6 separate regions of the Homo sapiens genome follow, and regions 2, 3, 4, 5 and 6 are each reported to be linked to region 1. Evidence: microRNA targets listed by miRTarBase, many of them from high-throughput screens and not tested one by one. Region 1 holds a microRNA gene; each other region holds the end of a gene's coding sequence.
What was found. Region 1 holds the annotated microRNA hsa-miR-6744-3p (GGGCCUCUCUUGUCAUCCUGCAG, at 2,119-2,141, opposite strand). A microRNA usually pairs through its seed, bases 2 to 8, with sites in the 3' UTR of a target mRNA and lowers its output. Matches are read on the target gene's strand: a 7mer-m8 pairs with bases 2 to 8, a 7mer-A1 pairs with bases 2 to 7 and ends in A, and an 8mer does both.

Region 1 (3,121 bases):
AGCTGATGCACACAGGGACCACAGGTGGGCAGGGAATCTGGGCAGGCAGAGACCCCATGTGGGCAGGAATCTGGGTGGGCAGAGACCCCATGGGGGCAGGAATCTGGCAGGCAGGAATCCGGGCGGGTAGGAATCTGGGCGGGCAGGCGGGGACCCCAGGCCAGTGTGTGCTGCCCCCAGGCTGTTGCTGGGAGCCCCTGAAGGGACCTCTCAGAGGCAGCAGTTGTGGAGCTCATGGCTGTCGACGTAAGGTGCCCCTGAGTCCCAAGCATGTCCCAGCTCTGACGTGTCCAGGGCCCCTGTGCGGATCGGCCCTCAGGGCAGGAATGTCAAGACAAGGAGTGGGGCTCAGAGAGCCCCGGGGCATCCCACACACATGTTCAGGCCCCAGGGCCACACCCACCCACTGCTGTGCCCTTACCCCGTAGAAGGTGCCATTGTACGAACACAGCTGAGGTCCTGGAAGGAAAGGGAGCTAAGCCCTCGACAAGTGGTGGGGAGCATGTGCTCCAGCGCCCCCACCATCCTGCACTCCCCCACCCCCAGCAAGAGGCCACCCAGGAGCCCGGCCCCAGCCCCGCTCACTGCAGCGGAAGGTGGGACAGCAGTCGCCCTCCTCCTGGGTGCAGATGGACTCCTGCCCTGGCGGGCACACAGGCAGGCTCTGGGGGCAGGTGGTTGTGTTGCACACTGCGGGAGGATGGAGGCCACTGTCTGGGCGCTGCTCACTCCTCCTCCCGACCACTTGTTCCCAGAGTAAGTCGCAGGCGTGCTTTTCCCCGAGGACCTGACCGCTTCACAGCCCCTGGGGGCTCCCTCCAGGCCCCTTGCTTGGCCACCTCCCCGCTGCTTCCCACGTCCCTGGGCCACTCCTGGGCAGGCCAGAGGTCACCAGCCTCATCGTTAGGAGGAGAATGAAGCACCTGGAGGCCATCTCTGCCGAGTGGTCCTGCCGCGGTCACGCCAGGACACAGTGGCTCTCCTCTGCTCTCCTGTGCCCAACCCACAGGCCCCTGGTGGGCACCGGCTCTGTCCCCCCTCACCCTATGCCGGGCACCTCTGCTCTGCAGCGTCTTACCGCACACCGTCTCGGGGCAGCAGGGGTTCTCGGCCCGGGGCCTGGTCACGGTTACGAAGCCGGGACGGTTGCACGGCGGGGGCTGACCCTGGGCGTCACAGGGCAGGGGCTTGCACTGCACCGACACTGAACCCTCGTCACACACGCAGGACTGGCAGTTGCTGACCCACCGCTCCCCGGGCTGGAATGGATCAAGGGGGTCCCTGAGGGCTCCTGGACAGACACAGGTCAACCCTGGGCATCTGTCCAGCCACCCCCTCCCTCGGGCTGGTACCCGAGTGGCCCAGAGTGATGGGGCAGGAAGCGCACACCAGCCACTGGCACGTCCACGTCACACTCGGGCGCCCCACAGCTGCCCTGTGGGATGGGGATGCTCCTTCCCTCCCTCCCTCAGCTCGCGAGAGGGTGGGGTAGGGCAGGTGGGGGTGGAGCCACTCACAAATTTAGGAAACCCATCGGGTCCCACGCAGGCTGGAAAGAAAACAGCATGGCATCACGGAGGGTGCTGAGTTTGCAGGCGGAGGGGCCTCTGGCCATGGGAGGTGCTCTCAGGCCTGGAGCCTGCTTCCCCCCGGGATGGAAGGCCCTGGAGAACTTTTGGGGTGTCAGATGTGGCTGGAGCTCAGGCCAGGGCACCGTGAGCCCAGCTGTCAGTGCATGGAAGCCTCGTCCATGGTGGTGGGAGGCAGGGCTCAGGGGAGGGACCATCACAGGATCACTCAAGGACAGAGCCTCCCTGTGGGGCTTCAGGGGACCGTGGGGGCTCTGCAGGGTTCAGGGCCACTCTGGGGCCATCCCATGCTCTGGTGGGGCAGAACAGGTCACGGGGGTCAGCTGGGGAGAGGGGAGAGCACATCATGGTCCTGGGCGGCTCCTCCCACCCTGTGTGTGCTTGGGTCGGGCCCAGGGTCGTATCCCGCCACAGGTGGCGGAGCTTACGGCAGGCCTGCACGCAGATGCCCATGTGTGCGTTGAAGAGGATCTGGTCCTCAGGGCAGAAGCAGCCCTCCGCCATCCCCTCCAGCTGTGGGCTCTGGTTCCTGCAGGATGACAAGAGAGGCCCTGAGACCTAGAGATCCAGGAGGCCTCCACTGTCATCCACGTGAGTCCCCAGGATGGGCAGTGGGGAGCAGGGAAGGAGATGAATGGGTGGAGTGCGGGGCTCAGGGTGGGCGGGGCTGGGGGCGGGGACGGGTGGGGCTGGGGTGGGGGTGGGCGGGGCTAAGTATGGGCGGGGATGGGTGGGGCTCGGTGGCGGGGCCAGGTGGGGATGCGGGGCCAGGCGTGGCCAGGGATGCGCCCCCTGCCTGACTCTGTCTCTAAGGCATCTGGGAGCAGCAGGGGATGTTTTCCAAGGAGTCCTGGGCTCGGGCACCCCAGAGATCTGTGGCCCACAGTGGGACACCCTCTGGCCTCCTCCTGCTCCCCCAGACCGGTCAGGCAGGCCTGGGTGGCAGGGAAGGCACCAGCCATCCCTGTACTTACCTAGAGTTGCAGGTGGCAGGCTGTATGGGGCCGCATGGCTTGTACACTTTGGTGGGTGGGCAGGTGAGGTCTGTGGGCACAGAGAGGTGTCAGACAAGCCAAGGGGTTGGGGGGGCCCAGGGCCGCCCCCAATCACCGCACAGGACACTCAGAGAGGCCGAGGAGTCTGGGGGGCCCGGGGCCGCCCCCACTCACCGCACAGGACACTCAGAGAGGCCGAGGGGTCTGGGGGGCCCGGGGCCGCCCCCACTCACCGCACAGGACACTCAGAGAGGCCGAGGGGTCTGGGGGGCCCGGGGCCGCCCCCACTCACCGCACAGGACACTCAGAGAGGCCGAGGGGTCTGGGGGGCCCGGGGCCGCCCCCACTCACCGCACAGGACACTCAGAGAGGCCGAGGGGTCTGGGGGGCCCGGGGCCGCCCCCACTCACCGCACAGGACACTCAGAGAGGCCGAGGGGTCTGGGGGGCCCGGGGCCGCCCCCACTCACCGCACAGGACACTCAGAGAGGCCGAGGGGTCTGGGGGGCCCGGGGCCGCCCCCACTCACCGCACAGGA
Region 2 (3,000 bases), not on the chromosome of region 1:
CCTTCTTAACTGTAATTCTAAATAACCGGGGATGACACACTGAGTCGGTTTAAGAACAAATCCTGCTGAGCCTTTTCAAAATCATCATACATTTGCAGTTCCCTATTCCATCAAAATGCTTTGCCGAAACAACATCTTGTAACTGCACTGGGCATATGACTGATGTGCTGAATGGTGCATTTGCACTGATGCTCACCATCTCGTTGCTCAGCAACGTCAGCATCTCGGCTTGAACTTCTGAATGGCCGCGGGAATCACGCGGCAGTGCCATGGGGTGGGTGGACTGTTTTAGACTGCCAGCAGTCAAAACAGTTGTGATGGGCTCAATGTCTCTACACTGTGAGCCTGGGGAACCCATTCTCCTATGGAATGGTTTTCAGGGGTCCAGCAATGTCACTGCAGGTGGCTGAGATATTCTGGCCCCTGCTTATGAGGAACTACATGAAAGAAGAAGCCTAGTGTTCTAAAAATTAGACAATGCGGCAGGGTTGGGGAGAGGCTGGGGGGTTGCTTTCATGAGTCTGGAAATTTCTGGTTTTAGCTCTCTGAGAAGGCTGGGAGACTCTGTTGTAGGCAGCTGTGGGAGAAGGCTAGGGTTGGAGGTACACCTGGAGATGTGTCAGTTTGGTGTTGGCACTGCAGATTCAGCGCCCGTGGTCCCTGACTAAGGCACTCTGCCTAGATCTATTTTCCCCTGACTGTACCTTTTATGCCCCCTGGCTTTCCCATTCTCCCTGGAAACTCCTGTTTGTTTTTGCTTTCTAAGATAGAGATAGCAAGTAGGGTTCATTTCTCTCATCTGACTGTTGGGTTCATCTGACTGTTGAGTGGCGGCTCTTTGGAATTGTAATTTGAGAAGGATTGTGAAGAAATCAGTGGGCTTAATAGGAAATAGTGCTGTGATTGATTAGCAATGTCTGCCATGGCCACAAAAATTGGTATTGATAAAATAAATGCATCCCAGGCCCTTATATCTCTGTTCTAAGTAAAGTGAGTGAATGAAGCTGGCTTGATGTATTTTTGAAGGATCTTTGGAGACCATAGCCCAAGCCACTAAATGTATATTTATTTTATATTCTGCCTTGTTCCAGAAAAGATCTGAGAATTTGGGTGGCTTGGGACAGGAATTTTAGGATTTGTGGAAAGCTAGAGAGAGAGATAATTTTGAATAGGCTGATGCAGGAGGTCCAAGACAATGATCTCTGTTTTTATCCCTGGGTGATGAAGCCCAGTGTTTAGCAAGTGATTATAGGGCTTATTGATTAAACAGATCCAGAAAGACCTGGATAAATGGGGTGAGTCCTAGGCATGGTGGAAATTTCAGGCAGAGCATTTCTGTGTTGCAGATCTGATGTATTTCCCCTTGGTTAACAGCTGAGGTTCTATGTCGAAAAGCCAAAGAGAAGTATATTTGTATACACACACATGCCTTATGGGGGTTAATCAAAGATCCTTATTATGTCAGGACCATTGTCTCTCAGCTCTGCCCAGAAGTCTGTGGTGCATGGCTTTACCAAGAAAAAAAACAAAAAACAAACAAACAAAAAAAACTAGTGATATTGTGTGATAGGTCCTAATGATGGTATTTTGGGAAGATCAACTTATGTTTATCTCTGGAAAACAGGATAAACTTCATACCTCAAGTGATTTAAACTGAAGCCAAACCTTGATTTTTAACATGATTCATTAACAGGTTGCTCTTCGACAATGCCATTGTCTGTTGATTTAGGGTCCATGTCTGGCCAAAGCCAGCCACCTCTAGCTGCTGATGGCCTGTGGGTTTTAGAAACTGGCTGATGCTCCCATGAATACGCCCCTGTCTATTGCACACAACTGATTTCACTTACACATCAACATAGCAACATACCTTTTCCATCAGTAAACACCTGCTCCCCTTCTCACTTGGAAACTGGAAGAATTTGCAAGGAAAAGATGCCATACATTTTTTATGTACCTGCAAATCCCAGAAGAACATCCTTCTGCATACCCGTCTGATGTTGAGTTTCTTACCACACCAGGGACCCCAGCATTTCCAAAGTTGTAGGCAAAGTTTTCCTCTTTCTTGGGTGGTGCACAGGGGTGAAGGTCCTTAGGCTCCTAGGCCAAGGGTCCAAAGTCCAGGGATGGAGGTGGAGTAGAGGCAGGAAGGCAGCATTTTAGAAACCCAGCAATGTATTTCTTATCCAACTCTGCATTTCACCTTCAGATAAATGATTTTCTTACTGGTCTCCATGAGACATAATCCTGTTGAGAGCATCTTGCAGTTTCACTGTCTCTGGAACCTTCTAGAGGTGATAGATGGCTGGCTATAAATCTGACTGTAGTTGCCTCATCATTTGTTTTCTGGCAATTTAAAATATCTGTTTCTTTCAGCTGATCATGATTGTTGGTATACTGGCATTGCCAACCAATTTTTAGAATGTGTGAAGGTCAGTGGGCTTTATCACCACTCCTCTTCTCTAACTGGAAAGACTTGTTCTAACATCTCCTGAAGTTTCTGAGAGAGCCCAGAGCAGGAACTTTGGGCTCTAGACAGAAGGCCTTGGAGGAGGGCGGGAGGGAGGAGGTGCCCTGTTGGGAGGTGGAGCCTGGGGAGGAGGGGGAAGGGTGGAAGGTGGGGACGGGATGGGAGGGGTAGGGGCGCTGGGGGGCGGGGGAGGGCAGTGGGGCGCAGGAGGTGGGGGAGTGTAGATGGGGGCAGGAGGCGGCGAGGAGGTGTGGTAGGCGTTGTTGAGTGGGTACTTGGCTGGCTGGTTGTTCTTGACCCTGGTGAAGTTGATGCAGCGCCCCTAGAAAAGAATTGGAGAGAAGGAAACGTGAGCGGACGGCCTCACATCAGGGCCTGTGGTGCTGTGGTGGGCGGCTTGCAAGCAATATGTGGAAAGCTGGCCCCTGTTGGTGACAACTCTCTAGTGGCACATAGTAGAACTTGAGGACAAGTGAGCTCCCCACTTCCTTTTCCTGGACTGTGTTGCAAAACTGTTAAAATTCATCTTTTCC
Region 3 (3,121 bases), not on the chromosome of region 1:
CTGGGTATTTCCAAGGGAAGTGAAGGACTGACACCATGATTAGAAAGCAGAGCCAGCACCATGGCCCGTCCCTGAGCATGTCCAGCAAACCCTGCCAGGCTCTGCAGCTCCTGAGCACCCTGCCTTCGGGTCTGCCAGTGTGTGGGGGCCAGAAGAGAAAAACAACCCAGGGGGAATGCCTCCTTCCCCCAGCAGGAAAGCAGCTTGGTCATCATCTGTCTGAAAGCAGGTGCTGCAGCAGCTGGCAACAAAGCCACTCTGAAAGGAGCTGTGTGCACTGCCTGTCTGGAAGGCCATGCCAGAGTCCATCGTTGCCTCCACCCTACCTGTGCAGGAAACCTGGACATCACCACTTCAAGGCCCTACCTTCCTTTCTGGGCAGAGCCCAACCACAATAAACAGGACGCGTTTTAATTAAAAACCAGGTCACCTGGACTCTCCCAAGGACTCTCAAGCCTGCCTAGGTGGATGCTGCATGACTGGCCCTCAGACACACGGCAGACCATAACTCACACACCCCCAGGAGCTGCCTGGGTCCCAAGGGCACAAAAGCCCCAAAGCCCCAATAGGACAGGGTTCAAAAGAGAAGGCAGCAATCCCAGGCTGGAGTATCCACTTCAGGTCCACTAAAGGGAGATGGGGAAGGTGGCCTGTCCAGAAGCCTGTGGGACAGGGTAAAGGTCAGCTGGGTGACTAGGCTGTCCATCCTAGAGAGCAACTCTGGGTTCTACTGCCAGACCCACAGGTGAGCCAGGCCACAGTGCACTGGAGGTAGGCATCAGGGAGCAGTCTGACCCAACCCACAAAAGGGGGGATGGGGCCTGAGTCATCGGACGGAGGGCAGCTGTGACCTGGCACAGAAGCATGGGGCTGGGCCAGGACATCCAGGGACTTCTCACATCTGACCAGAATCAAGACTGAAAATGGGTTTCTTCTGCCAGCTCACTTGCTTTGCTACCAGGGCTATACCTGCTTTCTAAAAATAGCTTCCCACCTATTTCCAAGGTTTCCAGTTGTTTTACCTACAAGGTATCTGTGCCCTGAAATAACTCACACATAAAACCATCTGAACCCAGAGCCTTTTCTAGTGATAGTTACCATAAAATAATCCCAACAATTTATATTTTTCTAAATAAGGTTTTTGTTTTTTGTTGTTTTTTTTTTTTTGGGATGGAGTTTCACTCTTGTTGTCCAGGCTGGAGTGCAATGGCGTGATCTCGGCTCACCACACCCTCTGCCTCCTGGGTTCAAGCAATTCTTCTGCCTCAGCCTCCCAAGTAGCTGAGATTACAGGCATGCACCACCACACTTGGCTAATTTTGTATTTTTAGGAGAGATGGATTTCTCCATGCTGGTCAGGCTGGTCTTGAACTCCTGACCTCAGGTGATCCACCCACCTTGGCCTCCCAGAGTGCTGGGATTACAGGTGTGAGACACTGCTCCCGGCCAGTTTCTGAATAAGTTTAATCAGATGCTTGCTAATTAGTTTTTCCTAAAATAGTTGGCTGTATTTCCAATTCACATTTCTGCTTTTTCTTCCTACTTTCCAGGAAGGTGTTGTTTTGTTGTTTTCACAATTGTAAACCTGAAAGGGACTTGAACTTCTTGTCCAAGCACCAGAGTGGGCACACACTGCACACACTGGGCGGCTGTACCTGCCTATCCTGTGGTAAACTTGGCTCCAGGAGCTTCCAAGCTCAGCTTCCACTAGAAAACCCCTCCTTGTGTGGAACAGGTCTTTCTTCATTCCATTCCTCTGGGCCTGGGGCCTCACAGCTCTGGACTGCTGCCTGGTCCTCACTTCACCTACAGCTCTCGGAAGTCAGTTCTCTACCTGCAGAGCCACCCACCCCCTACTCAGCCCCACCCAGCTTCTTTGATCAGACCCTTGGACCCTCAAAGCCCCTGCCAGAAACCACAGCTGCAATGCTGACCTGGAATGCTCATGGCCAGGCCTCTGCTCCTGACAGAATGGGAAACAAAGACTTGCTGGTAGGCAGCCACTGCACCACCTCAGCCAGTAATCCAACACGTGTTTAATGAGCACCAATTGTGTACCAGGCCACAGAGCTGACTAAGACAGAGCCCCTGTGCTGAGGGTCACAGTCTGCCAGGAGGGAGATCCAAGTCATTTACACACTAGGGCTTAAGTGCTGAATCCGCAATGCATGCGAGTGCGGAGTGAGCAGGGGATGGCAGCACAGCAGCAGGGAAGAGGAGCCTGCTTCAGAACACCAGGCACGATTAGAGCTACAGTGTTAACACACAAAGGGCGAATGCCTGCAGCTGAGCCTGGCAAGGGGCTTGCATCCCACCTTCCTGCATCCAAACCTTCCAGCTGCCCAGAACTGCTGGTAATCCCACAGGAAACATCATTCTTTGCCAAGATGCTATCCCACTCATCCCCCAGAATCAAAGTGGCCACTTCCTCCAGGCAGCCTTCCTCACATTCCAGCTGGGACAGAAGTCACAGGGAGCAGAGAGGGTGGGGCTAGGGGGACAGACACAGAAACCCCATACAGGAACGAGGTCCCAACAGGGCAGACGTGGCAGACCCAGTTCAGTCCCAGCCAGTGTGGAAGACACCAAGGGGGGTGTTTTATGGGGGTGGAGGTGACAAAGATGATGCAACTATCTGCTGAGAGTTGATCTACAAAACGACCCCCTCGTGGGAGCAGGCCTGGGTGAGACGGCACTCCCAGAAGACGGGCAGGGATGCAGCAGAGAGCCAGCAGCAGGGAAAGGGCACAGGGCGGAGGTCAAGCTCTGCTGGAGTTGGGGGAGCTGGTTCTGCTCAGCGCAGAGTCCAAAACAAGCGCATCTTGCCCAGCTATGGGGTCTGAAGTCATCTGGGGACACCACTCTGCTCTGACTGGGGACTATGGGGCGCTCAAGCCACACAGGCCACTTCATCATGAGGGGCAGCATTGTTCCCACCTGGGCTGTGTTCAGAACCCAGGAGAAAGTGGTGGCTCTCCTGGGGTCTCCGGGGCCTCCACCACCTCCTGTGGGGTACCTAAGGACACCTCCTGGTCTCCCTCTGTCTCCAAAACCTCCTCCTCTGTTTTCTGGGGTTTTGGACCTCCTGGATGAGCTGGGTCTGGTCTCTGGGCAGGAGGAT
Region 4 (3,121 bases), not on the chromosome of region 1:
CCACTGCCACCACCGCCACCACCACCACCTCCGCCACCACGCCCACCCCCACCACCTTCACCACCAGGAGGCGGGGCTGCACGCCAACCCGGTGACGCCCTGCCTGTGCATGTGTCCCTTGTTCTCCTGCCAGTGGGAAGGCCGCCTGGAGGTGGTGGTGCCCCACCTGCGGCAGATCCATAGGGTTGACATCCTCCAGGGAGCCGAGATCGTCTTCCTGGCCACGGACATGCACCTCCCCGCGCCGGCTGATTGGATCATCATGCACTCCTGCCTTGGCCACCACTTTCTGTTGGTGCTGAGGAAACAGGAGAGGCATGAAGGGCACCCCCAGTTCTTTGCCACCATGATGCTGATTGGGACCCCCACCCAGGCCGACTGCTTCACCTATCGCCTGGAGCTCAACAGAAACCATCGGCGCCTCAAGTGGGAGGCCACGCCCCGGTCTGTTCTTGAGTGCGTGGACTCGGTGATTACGGACGGGGACTGCCTCGTCCTCAACACCTCGCTGGCACAGCTCTTCTCTGACAACGGCAGCCTTGCCATTGGGATTGCCATCACCGCGACAGAGGTCCTCCCCTCAGAAGCTGAAATGTGAGGCCAGGAGCCACGGATGCTCCCCACACAGCCTCCCTAGGAAACGCCTGGGACCTCCCAATACCAGGACTCCAGACTCCTTTTTATTCTTCTCCTTTCTTTTTTTTTTTTTTAATTTTTAATTATTATTATTTTTTTGTCTCAGGTACTTTGTGAGATTTAGTTTTTGTCTGCCATGGGCATTATATTATGTAAACATCCTGTAATTTAAGATCTTGGTGTGATGTTTGTCCTGCCTTGTTGGTGTTGTTTTATAGAATGTTTGTAAGATTTATTCAGAATAGTTTTTTCCTGTCACCTCCAAGTCCTTTCTCCGCTAGTTTTGAAAGGATCAAAACACCATCAAGCAGACTGTTGGGGTTGAAAGGAGGCTTCGTGTGAGAATCATTTCTTGTTTCTCTTTTCAGTCTATTTCAGAGCAAGCTAAATCTGAACGTGTGCAGTCGGCAGGTTGGGGAAGGGGCCCAGCTCAGAGATGGATCACATTTCAGACCATCCAGACATGACTCTGACAGCTTCCCAGGAACCTCAAGGTCAAAGCTGAGCTAGCCGGGCATGAGGAGATCGTGTCTCCACCGCAGGGCTGGGGACTGGGCTAGAGGTGTCATTGTGTGCTGAGTGCTCAGGTTGATGCTGGGGCTCAGGAGAGTAGTCAGAGGCCCACCTTCCTGTGACGGGCTCTTGTCACCTTGTTCCCAGGCTGTGCCGTCTTCTCCTGCTCTGGAATCAAAGTCCTCAGATTTTTGATGCTTTCTTAAAAACCCCTTTGCCTTCTGTTGAGCAAGTAGTAGAAAAGAATAGGCAAGATGGGGGGTGGGGATGAAAAGCAACAGGAAAAAGAGAACATAAAATTAATCTCCCATCTCTGAGAGGGCACTCCCTCCTCAGAGAGTTTTATTATCAAGTTATAAAATCCATCAGTTCCTCCCTAGGGTGCAGTTCTTTCATATCATGCAAAAAGCAGAACCAGGACTCATCATCAAATGCAAAGAACTCAGAGGGTGGCACCCAGGATCTCTGACCTGGCGGGCTGGTCATCACTTACAAACCTGGGAGGCTCTCTTCCCTTTCCTCACTTTCTAAAATGCTCCTACCGTCCCATTCAGCACGCAGACGTGACCACGGCTCAAGTATGTATTCAGCACCTGTTGCAGTATGAATGACACAGTGACGGAAATCCATATTTCCTCTGCGCAGGCTGCTTTCTCTTATTTGGTTGTCAGAACAATTCATCAACATCTTCTTGTAGAAGTCTCTCGTGTATTTGAAGAAAGTCAGCATGTTTAGTCAACTTTGTCTTTTCTGTTCTAAGTTGGACACCTATAAGCCTTCCCAGTAGGACCTCTTCTAGCTCCTTTTTATCGCATTTGTCCCCCCCCTCTGGCTGCTCTCCAGACACTGCAGAAGTCAGGCACCCCATCCCCAGCACATTCCCATGACAGCCAAATGGGCCTTTGGCCAACCAGACATTACTCTCCGTGCCCTGTTCCTGCACCTCACCCCCTCGGCTTGGTCCTGGCAGGCATCCAAGTGACTACTTAGTCTCAGGCAGGTTGCCCTGGCTGGCCATCTGCAATTTTTTCTCCACCAAAAATAACTGATCCTGAAACACAACACCCTTCCCCCAACAACTGGGTTAATTCTCCAGCCACTTTTGGTGCCAACTTACACCCCCACGCACCAGAAGGGAGGTGCCAGTCGATACAAGATTTAATAACAGAGGCTGCTCTGGTCACACAGTAATCGCTGGGCCCCTGGGGCTGAGACTGCATTCCGTCAGAGCCCTGAGAGGGGCAAAAAACATTGCCACAGATGGAGGCACATGTCAGATGCTGCAGTCGCAAAAAAGGATTGGGGCCTGCGCATTCTTTGAGCTCTCAGATGCCCTGCCAGGGCACCAGCCACCCTCCTCCAATCACACAGATGCCCAAGAACACCTGAGGCTGGTCCGTCTGTGCGTGGAAAGACTGGCTGTCTTCCTCCTCACTGCATCCCCAATCCCCTTCCCAGAACCTAAGACCCCCTTGGCTGTAAGTCTTATGCCTTTAGAAGCCACAGGTCCTCTCCTGGTTTTTGAGACTCAACCACTTTGAAAGCATTTGTGTAGCATCACAGGTGCTCCAGATCAACAAACAAAAACCTCACTAAGAATATAACTAACATTCACAGGGCCTTAGGGCTCCTGCAGACATCACCTTTGCCTTCTGGTTGTGCCAAGTTACCTGAGCCACACTGGGAATGACTTCAGGTTATTTTCACTGCACACAAGACTGTATTATGAATAAGTGATCCCAGATGGGAGCTTATATTTTTGTTCCTAGAAAGCTTTAGGACAAAGCATGGGAAATGTATTATTATCTTCCATCTATGGTGCTCCCCAAAAGGCCTCTCCATATCCATATGTGAAGAACTGGAGAAGAAGGAGCAAACTAACAACCAAGAATTGGGAATAGGAAATGGTACCAGCAGTTTGTATTTGAGCTTCACAGTTCCTGAAGGGCTCTTTGATTTGAGTCTCAGGTTA
Region 5 (3,121 bases), not on the chromosome of region 1:
AGGACTCAAGGATCCCAGACTTGTCCAATTATAGGGCTCCCCCTGTCCCGCCCCCTCCCCCAGGGATAGGGCGGGCTGGGCCAGCCCCCAGTCACGAGGTGGGCTGTTCTCCCCCTGCCCCAGGCACAGCAGGGCAGAGGGAGGAAGGAGGTGGGGCATAGAGGTCTTTTGACCACCCCCCACAGTCCCCAGGAAGGGAGGACACCTCGCCCAGTAATACAGACACCCTCCTCCATTCTGGGGGCCAAGCGTGGAAGGGGAATGTGGAGGCTGCCGCCCAGAGTCCTCCTTTCCTGACCCTGTCCTTTCCTGTGCCTGGATGAATGTAATCTGGAGAGGGGGCTGGGGATCTGGACTCCTGGATCCCAGAAAGAAAGTAGGGCTAGGGGGCTGGACAGAAGTGGGATGGGAGGGGCTGGGGGCGGTAGCTCACGCCTGTAATCCCAGCACTTTGGGAGGCCACAGTGGGCGAATCACTTAAGGTCAGGAGTTTGAGACCAGCCTGGCCAACATGGTGAAACCCCATCTCTACTAAAAATACAAAAGTTAGCCAGGCGTGGTGGCGGGCGCCTGTAATCCTAGCTACTTGGGAGGCTGAGGCAGGAGAATCGCTTGAACCCGGGAGGCGGAGGTTACAGTGAGCCGAGATCTCGCCACTGCACTCCAGCCTCAGCAAGAGGGAGACTGTCTCAAAAAAAGAAAAAAAAGAAAGTGGGGCTAGGCGGCTGGACAGAAGTGGGATGGGAGGGGTGGGAACAGTATGATGCACCTGCTAAAAGTCGAGGCTTTGCAAATGGGACCTGGGTTTTAATCACAGCTTCCTCTTTGGTTGTGACCTTGAGCACAGGGGAGCCCCCTCCCCACATGTGAAATGAGATTCCAGCACCTCCCCCTGGCTGCCACAGGTATTGTGGTTTCCAGGGGCTTGAAGCCGTGCTTCTGGGTTAAGGTTAGGATTCTGGAGTCAAATTGCCAGGGCGTGAATCCTGGCTCTGCCAGTTGCCAGCTGTGTGACCTTGGGCAAATGACTTGTCCTCTCTGAGCATCAAGTTCCTTTGCTCATCAGACTGGGAAAGCAGCGGCACGGGTATGTTTGGTGACAAGCTAACGTGTATTGAGCATGGAGGACAGCCCTGGCACACAGCGGTCCTATGTTAGGGCTAGCAATGGACAGGCCACAGTGAACGCTCAGACGCTGTCACTTTCCTAAGCCCTGTTATAAATCCCAGATGTTTCAGAGGAGAAACCCGTGGTTCAGCAGCAAGACGAATGGCAAAACCACACAGTGAGAACTGGGAGAGACTGGGACTCATTCCTGGCTCCTGGAGCGGGTGGGATCAGAAGATTCTGCGGGTCAGGGGAGGCTGAACTCCTGGTTCGAGAAGGAACCCCCAGTGCCGGGCCGGGCCTGTTTGCTTTGGCTGGCAAGGGGTGGCTGAGGTGGGGTTGGTAACCTGGGGTTGGTTCTACTCAGCAGCCTCCTTCCCCAGACCCTGGGGGCAGACAGGGTTTCAGTTCCTGGAGGCTCGGGAGTCGTGGTGGGCATCAGCTGACCCCAGCCCTAGGTTGGCAAAATCCAGACAGCACCAAGTCCTCAGACACAGGTGACCCAACTCCCATGGCTGGCCTAGGCCCCTCCTCCCAGGCCTGCGAGTCCTTGAGCCCCTTCTCCCTGACACAGCAGTTCCTAGTACCCTAGTTGTTCTGAAGCTGTTCCAGTAGCTTGAACCCTCTCCCAGCTCCCTGCCCCCATCTCTGCACTCAGAGACAGTGTCATCTCTGCTGCTGCAGTCTGCAGGGACAAAGTCCTCTATAGCCACTCCGGCCAGGTCAAGCTGGGGGCAAGTGACCTTGAGACCCTACCCTCAGGCAAGGGAAGGCCCGTAGTGTCCCCCAGCAGGGCAGATGTTCCGGATGGGAAGATAGCGACCCCAGGCCACGCTGCGCCCCTCTGAGCCGGACTTAAGGCAGCATCAAGGATCCGCTGCTTTCCGTGCTCCGGCCCTCTGGCGCCCCCTGCAGGCGGCTGGGGGAAGGTCAGGGCGGCCAGACTCCGGATGAAATGCTCAAAACAGGCCAGACACACTTGAGAAAACGGAGGCCTCCCATCGTTTTTTTTCCCACGTATATTTTTTGTTGTTTTTTGTTTTTTTTCTGTAAAATGTCCCGGTTCTTCCATAACTTATAAACATGATTTATACCGAGGAGATGGGAAAGTGGACGGGGCAGGGTGGACTGACCGGGGATGGGGAAGCTCCTCTCGCTGCCCCCTCGGGGCGGGCCCAGGCCCTTTGGAGGATGGGGACGCCAGGACACTCCTCCCTGAGGTTGTCTGGCCGCCTCTGCCCCTGGTGCTCAGAATCCTGCGTGCCCCTCAATTCCGGAATCCCTCCCGGGACCCCAGGCCCACTGGGCATGCTGCCCCTGCTACTCAGAATCCCGAAGCGCCATTCAGTTCCAGAATCCCCTCCTCAGCTGCTGGGGTGGCGGGGTCCCTCCTTTCCAATGTCCCCCCCGACCCCCAAGGGGGGAGGGAAGGGAGGGGGGCTCAGGTCTCCCCTCTGTGGCAGGGGGAGGTGGAGGTGGAGGTGGAATCGGAAGGGCGTGGAAGGCGGGGGCCAGGAGGGCTCAGCCGATGGTGAGGCCAAAGCCACACTGAAACTTGTTCTTGCGGTGATTCAGGAAGGCCCCAAGGGCCAGTGTCAGGGGCAGGGGTGGGAGCTTCTTCTCCAGCGTGGCACCCACGATCCAGTTGCTATCCACAGAGCCTGCAGGGAAGAGCTGAGGTGAGAGGCGTGCCAGCTTCCCACCATATCCATGCAGAGTTCCTGGCCACCTTGGATACCAGCCACATGCCGACAGCTTCCAGACCTTTAACCACACTGCTCCTGCCACCCTGAAACCCCATCACACCAACAACTTCACGCTGGAGCAAATGGCTCACTCCTCCTCTGCTCTCCGCTCAGTGACCCCTGCCCTCTGAAAAGCCCTCTAGACCCCTGGGTTCCCCCAACCTAGTCCTGCCCACTCTGCGGATGAATCTGTTCCTCTCACTGAGTCCCGTGAAGACAGGGCTGGTCACCGCTGTGGCCCCAGCAGTGCTCAGCAGGAGGCTCAAACA
Region 6 (3,121 bases), not on the chromosome of region 1:
GAGGCTGAGGCAGGAGAATCGCTTGAACCTGAGAGGCGGAGTCTGCAGTGAGCCAAGATCACACCACTGCAACCCAGTCTGGGTGACAGAGTAAGACTCCATCTCAAATTTAAAAAAAAGGAAAAGTAACCACTGTTGACAAGAATGTAGAGAAACAGGAACCCTTGTCTGTTGCTGGTGAGAATGTAAAATGGTACAGCTGCTGTGGAAAAGTGGCAGGTCCTCAAAAATAAACAGAATTACCACAGGATCCAGTTAATCCACTTCTCAGTACGTACCCAAAACAACTGAAAGCAGGGACTCAAACAGATACTCGTATACCAGTGTTCACAGCAATAGCCAAATGTTCATTCATCAGTAGTCAAAAGGTGACGACAACTCAAATGTCCATCAACAGATGGACAAACAAAATGTGGCACACACAGAGAATACACACTGCACCCGTAAATATATTTAACCATAAAAAAGAAATAGCACTGACATATGCTACAACACGGATGCACCTTGACAACACTACACCAAGTCAAAGAAGCCAGATACAGGCCAGCCGCACTGGCTCACGCCTATAATCCCAGCACTGTGGGAGGCCGAGGTGGGTGATCACTTGAGGTCAGAGATTCCAGGTCAGCCTGGACAACATGGTGAAACCCCATCTCTACTAAAAATACAAAAATTAGCCAGGCTTGGCGTCAGGCACCTATAATCCCAGCTACTTGGGAGGCTGAGGCAGAATCATTTGAGCTGGTGAGGCGGAAGTTGCAGTGAGTGGACATCGCGCCACTGCTCTCTGGCCTGGGAAACAGAGCGAGACTTCAACTCAAAAAAAAAAAAAAAAAAGAGCCAGATACAAAGGGTCACATATTGTATGATTCCATTTATATGAAATATCCAGAACAGGTGAATCCAGAGGGACAGAAAGCAGGTTAGTGGTTGCCAAGGGCTGGAAAAAGAAGGAAATTATTGCTCAATGGGTATATTAGTTCTGTTTGGGATAATGAAAATGTTCTGGAAATAGATGGTGGTGACGGTTGTACAACATTTTTTGTTTTGTTTGTTTTTGAGATAGTCTGGCTGTCTCCCAGGCTGGAGTGCATTGGTGCAATCTCGGCTCACTGCAACCTCTGCCTCCCGGGTTCAAGCTTCTCAAGTAGCTGGGAATACAAGTGCCCACCACCATGCCCAGCTAATTTTTGTATTTTCAGTAGAGACAGGGTTTTGCCATGTTGGCCAGGCTGGTCTTGAACTCCTGACTTCAAGTGATCCACACGCCTCAGCCTCCCAAAGTGCTGGGATTACAGGCATGAGACAGTGTGCCCAGCCTGTACAACATTGTTAATATACTTAATGTCCCTGAATTGCACACTTAAAAATGATTAAAAGGATAAATTTGTTAGGTGTATCTTGGTATGGTTAAGAAAAATGGAAGGCTACACAATAAAAAAAAATATTTTTTTTTTGAGACGGAGTCTCACTCTGTCGCCCAGGCTGGAGTGCAGTGGCGTGATCTCGGCTCACTGCAAACTCCGCCTCCCAGGTTCACACCATTGTCCTGCCTCAGCCTCCCGAGTAGCTGGGACTACAGGCACCTGCCACCACGCCCAGCTAATTTTTTTGTATTTTTTAGTGGAGACACGGTTTCACCCTGTTAGCGAGGATGGCCTCGATCTCCTGACCTCGTGATCCGCCACCTTGACCTCCCAACGTGCTGGGATTACAGGTGTGAGCCACCGCCCCCAGCGATAAAACATTCTTATTGACTTTCGAGTGGCAAAATAATAAAGATCATGCCTTCCTTCCTCTTTACTGTGTTACAAATTGTATAATGAACATATATTATTAATTATGTGGGGCAATGTATATAACTGGCTTAAGTTTATAAAATAACGTACCAGCATCCGGTGCATTTGGCTTTATTACACTGCAGGGCCATCCAAAGCAAGAGCCTCTAGACCTCTGGGTGGTGAACAAATCTCAACTGGGGTTTCGTGCCTACCTGGACGACATCTGCTCGTCAATGTGTAGTTAACATCCTGACAGACCCTTCTGCCGCTGGATATGTGAGGGGCACAGCACAGGGCTCTGGAAGTCCCTGCTGACTGCTCGAAGCCTTTCTCCCTGCTAAAACCTCTGACCAAATGCTTAATAATATCTGCTGTAGGCTGTTGAGTCTGCCACACGTTTGACATTTATTGTTTATTCCCACACCCATCCCATGAAACAAGCAGGACTTTCCATTTTACAGATGTGAAAACCAAGATTCAAAGAGACTCAATAACCTGCTCCAGGACAAATGACAGAACTGAGACTTCTGACTCCAAATCTTACGCTCCCCCGCCACACCTCTTTGCCTTTCTCTTTCACACCAATGGACTCTATGGGTGACCTTGGCATAGGTTCTTCTAAGAACTGGCTCTTAACAAAAACTTCTGGCCATTATCTGACTGAATGTCACAAACAAGTGCTGTAAGAACTTGCTTAGAGCCTTTTTCCTAAACCTGTACACCAGCTCTTGCCTTGTGAATTTATTCACCACAAAACACATGTTCCCAGGGGCCCAGGCAAAGTCTCCAAGTACCCAGTCCCCTTTCTTCAGCCTTGCCCACACCCTCAGCCTTCCTGTTAATCCAGGCGACCCAGGGTTACCCAGAGGTCCAGGTCCCAGTTGTTCACTTGAGCATCTGATGTACCCCAAACACCTGTGTGAAACGCTCTCTGTCCAGGATGCGTCCATAGCGCAGGGTGACGTAGAAGGTCTGTTTCCCACTGTACCGCTGGATACGCACAAACATCTCCTGAGGCCGGTCCTTGGTTTCTGTCAGGGGAATCACATCTGCCATGGGACAGTATGTGTCCTGCCGCCAGCCCCAGAAGTTCAGATGGGCCACCCGCAGCATGGTGCCAGACTCATTCAGATACAGGATACCAACCAGTCTCCGTAAGAAATAGCTCATCCAGCACAGCATGGTCAGGGCAAAGCCCGATATCCCACTCATGAGGCACACGGTGTTGAGAGTGAGGAGGCCCTGGGAGTACAAGTAATAGCCTGGTGGCAAAGCTACCACTGTCAGGGCAGTCTGTGCCAACTTCAGTCGTGACAGGAACCCGAAGGTTCTGATGGCAT

Region 2: the mRNA of ANTXR1 is a reported target of hsa-miR-6744-3p. The part of its 3' UTR that is shown has no 7-base or 8-base seed match.
Region 3: the mRNA of RTL10 is a reported target of hsa-miR-6744-3p. Seed matches in the 3' UTR shown: 7mer-m8 at 1,953-1,959 and 7mer-A1 at 1,400-1,406.
Region 4: miRTarBase lists SIAH3 as a target of hsa-miR-6744-3p. Seed matches in the 3' UTR shown: 7mer-m8 at 1,252-1,258.
Region 5: miRTarBase lists TOMM40 as a target of hsa-miR-6744-3p. The part of its 3' UTR that is shown has no 7-base or 8-base seed match.
Region 6: the mRNA of TMEM186 is a reported target of hsa-miR-6744-3p. The part of its 3' UTR that is shown has no 7-base or 8-base seed match.

Annotation. Positions count from the first base shown.
Region 1 is chr11:1,255,668-1,258,788 of GRCh38, reverse strand. MIR6744 (microRNA 6744) reads right to left here and starts at 2,184; the gene lies at 2,119-2,184. MUC5B (mucin 5B, oligomeric mucus/gel-forming) reads right to left here. Exons shown (of 49, transcript NM_002458.3): 38 at 2,564-2,633; 39 at 2,018-2,118; 40 at 1,518-1,549; 41 at 1,079-1,259; 42 at 586-690; 43 at 422-459.
Region 2 is chr2:69,245,014-69,248,013 of GRCh38, reverse strand. ANTXR1 (ANTXR cell adhesion molecule 1) reads right to left here. Exons shown (of 18, transcript NM_032208.3): 18 at 1-2,789. The coding sequence ends at 2,529. Among named protein-coding and RNA genes, the nearest start is that of GFPT1, 140 kb to the left of the region's middle.
Region 3 is chr22:19,848,219-19,851,339 of GRCh38, forward strand. It overlaps RTL10 (retrotransposon Gag like 10), which reads right to left. Exons shown (of 3, transcript NM_024627.6): 3 at 1-3,121. The coding sequence ends at 2,949. The region is part of intron 2 of GNB1L (G protein subunit beta 1 like); the gene reads right to left. Among named protein-coding and RNA genes, the nearest start is that of GNB1L, 5.1 kb to the right of the region's middle.
Region 4 is chr13:45,780,860-45,783,980 of GRCh38, reverse strand. SIAH3 (siah E3 ubiquitin protein ligase family member 3) reads left to right here. Exons shown (of 2, transcript NM_198849.3): 2 at 1-3,121. The coding sequence ends at 598. Among named protein-coding and RNA genes, the nearest start is that of SIAH3, 69 kb to the left of the region's middle. RefSeq lists enhancers at 1-331, 332-832.
Region 5 is chr19:44,902,677-44,905,797 of GRCh38, reverse strand. TOMM40 (translocase of outer mitochondrial membrane 40) reads right to left here. Exons shown (of 9, transcript NM_001128917.2): 9 at 2,109-2,768. The coding sequence ends at 2,629. It overlaps APOE (apolipoprotein E), which reads right to left and starts at 2. Exons shown (of 4, transcript NM_000041.4): 1 at 1-2. RefSeq lists an enhancer at 1-685.
Region 6 is chr16:8,793,286-8,796,406 of GRCh38, forward strand. It overlaps TMEM186 (transmembrane protein 186), which reads right to left. Exons shown (of 2, transcript NM_015421.4): 2 at 1,895-3,121. The coding sequence ends at 2,667. Among named protein-coding and RNA genes, the nearest start is that of TMEM186, 2.8 kb to the right of the region's middle.